Regions from separate parts of the Homo sapiens genome. Here region 2 is linked to region 1. Evidence: fine-mapped expression QTL. Tissue or cell type: skeletal muscle. Region 1 holds a variant in brackets; the other region holds the start of a gene. All regions are shown on one strand. Distances are between the middles of the regions.

Region 1 (2,843 bases):
AAACTGCCAGGTGTTCTGATTCCAGCCACTGCCCCCCGCACCCCATTCAGGCCTCTGTGCTGGTTGTTAAAATTATTGAGCACCTTCTGGGTACCAGGCCTTGTGCAGAGCACATTATGGACTTACTCCATTCAATCCTTGGAGAAGTTCCTCAAGGGGTCAGCCTCATTTTACAGAGGACGGAATTAAGGGTTAGTTATCCAAGGAGTAAAGGAGGCAGAGATGCCAGCTGGGTGTGAGATGAAAATGGCCCAGGACTTCAATTTTTTTTTTTTTAAGAATGTCCTTCGTATTGCCAGGCACAGTGGCTCACCCCTGTAGTTCCAGCACCTTGGGAGGCCGAGGCAGACAGATCACTTGAGACCAGGAGCTTGAGACCAGCCTGGCCAACATGGTGAAAACCCTTCTCTACTAAAAATACAAAAATTAGTCTGGTGTGGTGGCACACACCCATAGTCCTAGCTACTTGGGAGGCTGAGGCAGGAGAATTGCTTGAACCCAGGAGGCAGAGGTTGCAGTGAGCTGAGATCACGCCACTGCACACCAGGCTGGGTGACAGAGACTCTATCTCTAAATAAATAAATAAATAAATAAATAAATAAATAAATAAATGCCCTTCATACCTTCATATGTCACAGAATAGAGGCCTGAGAAGTTCTCACATCCATTGTCTTTACCTGGGCTCACCCAAAATTCAGGGAGCCTGAGGCTTTTGGCTTCTGTATGGAAACTTAAGGGCGTGTGACCCCGGGGGATGGAGCGATGGACAGGAGAGTGAAGCTGGAGAAAGGAGGACTGATGGCAGATAGCACTGGTGGAGAGCCCTGGGCCCCAGTTCCCAGAAGCTGCACAAACTCATCCTGGGGGAGGTGGGAGGAGACTTTGTCCCGGTGCTCCTGCCTCCTGCCTCTCTGGTGGTGATGTGTGGTGCCCAGGCAGGGCGTGCTCCACGGGCACGCGCACAGAGCTGTCTGCAGACAGAGGCGCCTGGAGCAGGATGCAGGTGAGGCACAGAGGGCTTGCTGTGGAGCCGCATCTTGCAGCTGGGGGCACTGAGGCCTGAGAGGCTCTGACAGGCCATGCACTGGTGTCTGAACCAGGACCTGCTCGAGGTCACCTTCCTCCCAGGCCACTGAAGTGACTGTGGTGGTGAGAGGTAGGCAGCGGCCTGTCTGCCTATGTGTGTGTGTGTGTGTTGGAGAAACAGTATTTGGACTGATGTGCAGGTGGCCAGGAAATGGAGCACGGACACGGTCCTGTCTAGCAAGTTCTCAGGAGCATGTGTGCCCCATATAAAGAAGGTTGGCTGCAGGGCTGCCAGTCCAAGCCCAGAGTGTCCAGGCCCCCATCCCAGGATAGCCCAGCCCAAGCCAGGACATAGTGCCAGTCACTCTCAGGAAGAGCAGGGGACAGTGACACAGCACATGCCCTGGGCTGTTGAACTGTTCCCACTGAGTCCTCAGACAGCCCAGGGGCCCAGGGAGAGCAAGAATGATGAGTAACCAGGCTACGGCATCCAAATAAACACCACCCCAAACCCCAGACCAAACCACCTACAGAGCCTGCCAGCTGCAGCTGCCAGAGGAATCAATACCCATTGTTCTCCTAGACAAATGTTCCCTCTGCACTTTTGGCCACTGTGTTCCAA[G/A]GGATGGCTAGGTGTGGGTTTACATCATGTGGATGGACACAGCTTAATGGGATCTGTTCCTCAAATTGCTCCACCCCACAACCTCCCGCTGCAGGGTCATGAGTTGAAGACAGCTGCCTGGCTGGATCCGGGCGAAGAGCAGGCACCAGGCCTATGTGGACTCCAGTCCCTGAAAGCTGGGTGACCTTGGCCTTGGGTTCCTCGACTACTCAAGAGGGGTGAACATCTGCAGCTCTCGCTATCTCATAGGGTTGGCCTGAAGGTTACAAAGATTCCTGGGAAAAGCAGCCAGCAGGAGTAAAACACACAGTGTTACGGCTCCTTATCTAATTGCAACGGGAGGCATCCAGCTTAGGGCAAGGAGCGTGGGCTTCCCAGTCGGACAGGCCTGGGCTCACGCGCTGGCCTTTTCCATCAAGGCCTATCACCTCTCTCAGCTATGGGTCAGAGAAGTTAGCCTGCAGGACTGTTGGGAAAGTTGCAGCTGCATGCCTGGGTCTTAGCACGGTGCCATGGCCGTGAGAATTATAATGTGGCTGCCATGGTCCAGGCACTGAATGAGCTCAGAGGACCCCTTGCACAGTGCCTGACCAGGTCAGGCCAAGCATCGTGGACAGAGCCGGGGCCACATCCTCTCTGTGCTTAAAGGCCAAAGTCAGCACACCCACCTCTTCCATGGACCTCTCTTAAATTCTTCAAGTCCTCCTTGTGGCCCCTCCTCCAAGCTTCTAGATCCCATGTCACCTATTCCATTCTTTTTAGCTCTTAATCATGGCAGGGGACATTTGCTATTGGATGGAGAGGGGGCTACCCAGTATGTTTGCCCCCTTCTTATTTGAGAATAAGGCCCTATGATGTGAGTATTGGCAGGAGATAAGCCACCCACTGTGGAAGCTGAAGGGGCAGGCATTCTCTCACCTTGTTCCTGGGCAAATGGACCCAGATGTGGCTAAAAGGACACTTCCATCCAGGACTCAGACTTAGGTGGGTGACATTAAGTGGAGGGAAAATGAGATGCCATTTCCTGTGGCAGTGTCCACAGGTGGCAGCAGTGTCCACAGGTGGCAGCAGTGGCCCTGGTGTCCCTCTACGGCGGGAGCATGAGCTTCTGGTGGGCCTTCCCCACAGGCCTCCAGGTGGGACCATGGCCAAGCTTTTGCCCCTGGGCCTCCCTTGGTGGCTGCCCACTTCCTAA
Region 2 (2,500 bases), 99 kb before region 1:
GGCCCTCCCCTCCACCCCATGACCCACTGTCTACACTGCTGCCAGACTGATCTTTCCAAAAGGCAAATCATACATGTGACTCCTCTGCTTAAAACACAGAATAAAATCCTAGCTCCTTGTCCTGGCCTGCCAGGCCCTCTGATCTTCCCCGCCCTCCTCACCTCATCTCCTAAGCTCTCCTCAAGACCAGCCATGCCAAGTAGGTCTTCCTCAAGGCTTTGGCAGTCACTGTTGCCAAGGGGGTAGGGAACTATGCCTGGAACTATTTTTCCCTAGGTGATGTTCACAGAGATGCTTCCTTTGCATCCATCAGGTCTCAGCTCAATGTCACCTCCTCCAGGAAGGCTTCTCTGATTACTCTTTTGGTGCATTCCTTTTTTCTTTTTTTATGTTTACTCAACAAACATTTATCTTAACTATGTCCCATGCACTGTTCTAGGCAGTGCAGGTAACGGGGTGTTAAGCGAGCCAGGCCCTGTCCTCTTGGAGCTTACAGTCTAATGGGAAAGACAATCAGTACACAAGTAAAAATAAAAAATAAAAAAATGTCGGCCTGACTCGGGGGCTCACGCCTGTAATGCCAGCACTTTGGGAGGCCAAGGTGGGCGGATCACCTGAGGTCAGGAGTTCGAGACCAGCCTGGCCAACATGGCGAAACCCCGTCTCTACTAACAATAAAAAAATCAGTCAGGCGTGATGGGGGGCGCTTGTAATCCCAGCTACTCAGGAGGCTGAGGTAGGAGAATTGCTTGAACCTGGGAGGAGAGGTTGCAGTGAGCCCCGAGATCGCGCCACTGCACTCCAGCCTGGGTGGCAGAGCGAGACCCCGTCTCAAAAAAAAAAAAACCAACAAAAAAACCCCCATGATTTCAGAGCGTCTGAAGTGCTATGAAAAAACAAGAGCGAGGAAAGGCGACAGAGAGGGCCTAGGCTGGAAATCTCGGAGCCGCTCTGGAGACCGGCCCTGGGCGTAGAGTGGGGAGCAGAGGCCAGAGGGGCCGTGTGGAGCGGGTTGGGGGCGGCAAGGGTCACCTGAGCCCCACATCGGAGTTTGGGGAGAGCACCCGGCCGGCCCTAGAGCCCTCTGGTCTGGCCGCCCCGGAGGCGCGCTCGCTCGCCGGAAAGGCACGCGCGGGAGTCAGCCAGGTGCGGCTGCCGCGGGGAGCCGCCCTCCGGGCCGCGCTTCCTGGGGGGCGGGTCTCACCGCTGTCCCGCCCCTGGGCCGCCGATAAATGCGCCGAGCCGGCCGGCACCGCGGGTTCGGAGCGCGAAGCCGCCGCTGGGTCCTCGGCGCGCCCCGCGTCTGCGCTTGCTGCCGCGCCCCGGTCGGCGCGCTGGGAGTTCCAGCCATGCTCTTCTGGCACACGCAGCCCGAGCACTACAACCAGCACAACTCCGGCAGCTACCTGCGGTAAGGGCCGCGCGCGGTCCCCGCGGGTCTCGGGCCGGGCCGGCGGGCCGGGCGCCGTTGGACGTCCAGGGGCGGAGAGGGGGCGCCCCTGCTGGGCCCTGGCCTCCCCGCTGTCCGCCCTCTGGGGACTGAGAGACCCGCCCAGCGTCCCGCCTAGGGACTGACAGATGGACGCCGGCGGGACCCGACGTGCGGAGTTGGGGGCCCGCTGGGGAGGCGAGCGCGCAGAGCCCTATGTCTGCGAGGGCTCCTCCCAGGCGGCAGAGAGGGTGCAGGGCGCGCACCTGCCGGCCCGCCGCCTCCCCTGGCCCGTCCGCCCCCTGCGGCCCTCCTCTCCCCCGCGTATCGGAGAAGCAGAGGAAACTTCCTGCCAGCAGCCTGGTGCCCGGCCCGGGGAAGTTCGTCCCCTGCTCTTTGCCCGTCTCCGCCGGGGCCCCTCTCCCAGCCTCGCGCCCTCTGCAGTGCCCTTCCTTGGACGAGGGGCGGGCGGCGGGCTCGGAGGGGCAGGCCGCCCCACTTCCCGCGATGGTCTTGCGCGTGTTCGCCCGAGGCCCGCGTGGTTATTGCCCTTGATGGAAATCTTTCTTCTGCTGGAGGGATTTGAGTAGTGCCCTTCAGAGGGGAAAGTAAGTCCTGCGTGTTTTGCACAGTTCCCCACAGGCCCCTCTTAGCAGTAGGACCCCGTGTGCTCTCGCTCCCGGAGGATTGTTTTTCCCTGTTCTGCTGCTGGCCGGGACTAATGGGCAGTCATTTCACTTTGTGAACTCGCCTGAACCAGCTTTAGCCTGTCCTTATTTCCATCTTAGTCACAGTTTATGAAATGTGCCTAATTTAACCCAAAGGGCATTTGATATGGGCTCAAGGAAAATGAATGATGAGGCCGAAGGAGTCACAGGCATTGACAGCCCCCATACTAGAGCTACCTTTAAGTGCTAGTTTTGGCCCCAAGAAGTTCCCACTTAGATCTTAAAACGTTATTTGTAATTCCTGGCTGCTGGTAGGTATTTGTCCTCCCTGAAGACATCCCCTTTTCCTGGAGGCGGGGGAATGATTGGGTTTAGTGGATGTATCTGCTGTTTTTATTCATGG

Alleles and levels. Alleles are on the strand shown, and positions count from the first base shown. SD is a standard deviation of normalised expression in the study named.
With allele A in place of G in region 1, the expression in skeletal muscle of the gene that starts at base 1,257 in region 2 is lower (small effect, 0.28 SD a copy in GTEx).

Evidence for each region. PIP is the estimated chance that this variant, and not a neighbour inherited with it, causes the effect.
Region 2: it holds the start of TFCP2L1, and the variant in region 1 is fine-mapped to the expression of TFCP2L1 in skeletal muscle (GTEx, PIP 0.98).

The regions. Positions count from the first base shown.
Region 1 is chr2:121,184,587-121,187,429 of GRCh38, reverse strand. No RefSeq gene overlaps it. Among named protein-coding and RNA genes, the nearest start is that of TFCP2L1, 99 kb to the left of the region's middle. The variant G/A (reference allele first, on the strand shown) is at 1,649.
Region 2 is chr2:121,283,959-121,286,458 of GRCh38, reverse strand. It overlaps TFCP2L1 (transcription factor CP2 like 1), which reads left to right and starts at 1,257. Exons shown (of 15, transcript NM_014553.3): 1 at 1,257-1,411. The coding sequence starts at 1,350. RefSeq lists a silencer at 1,092-1,231.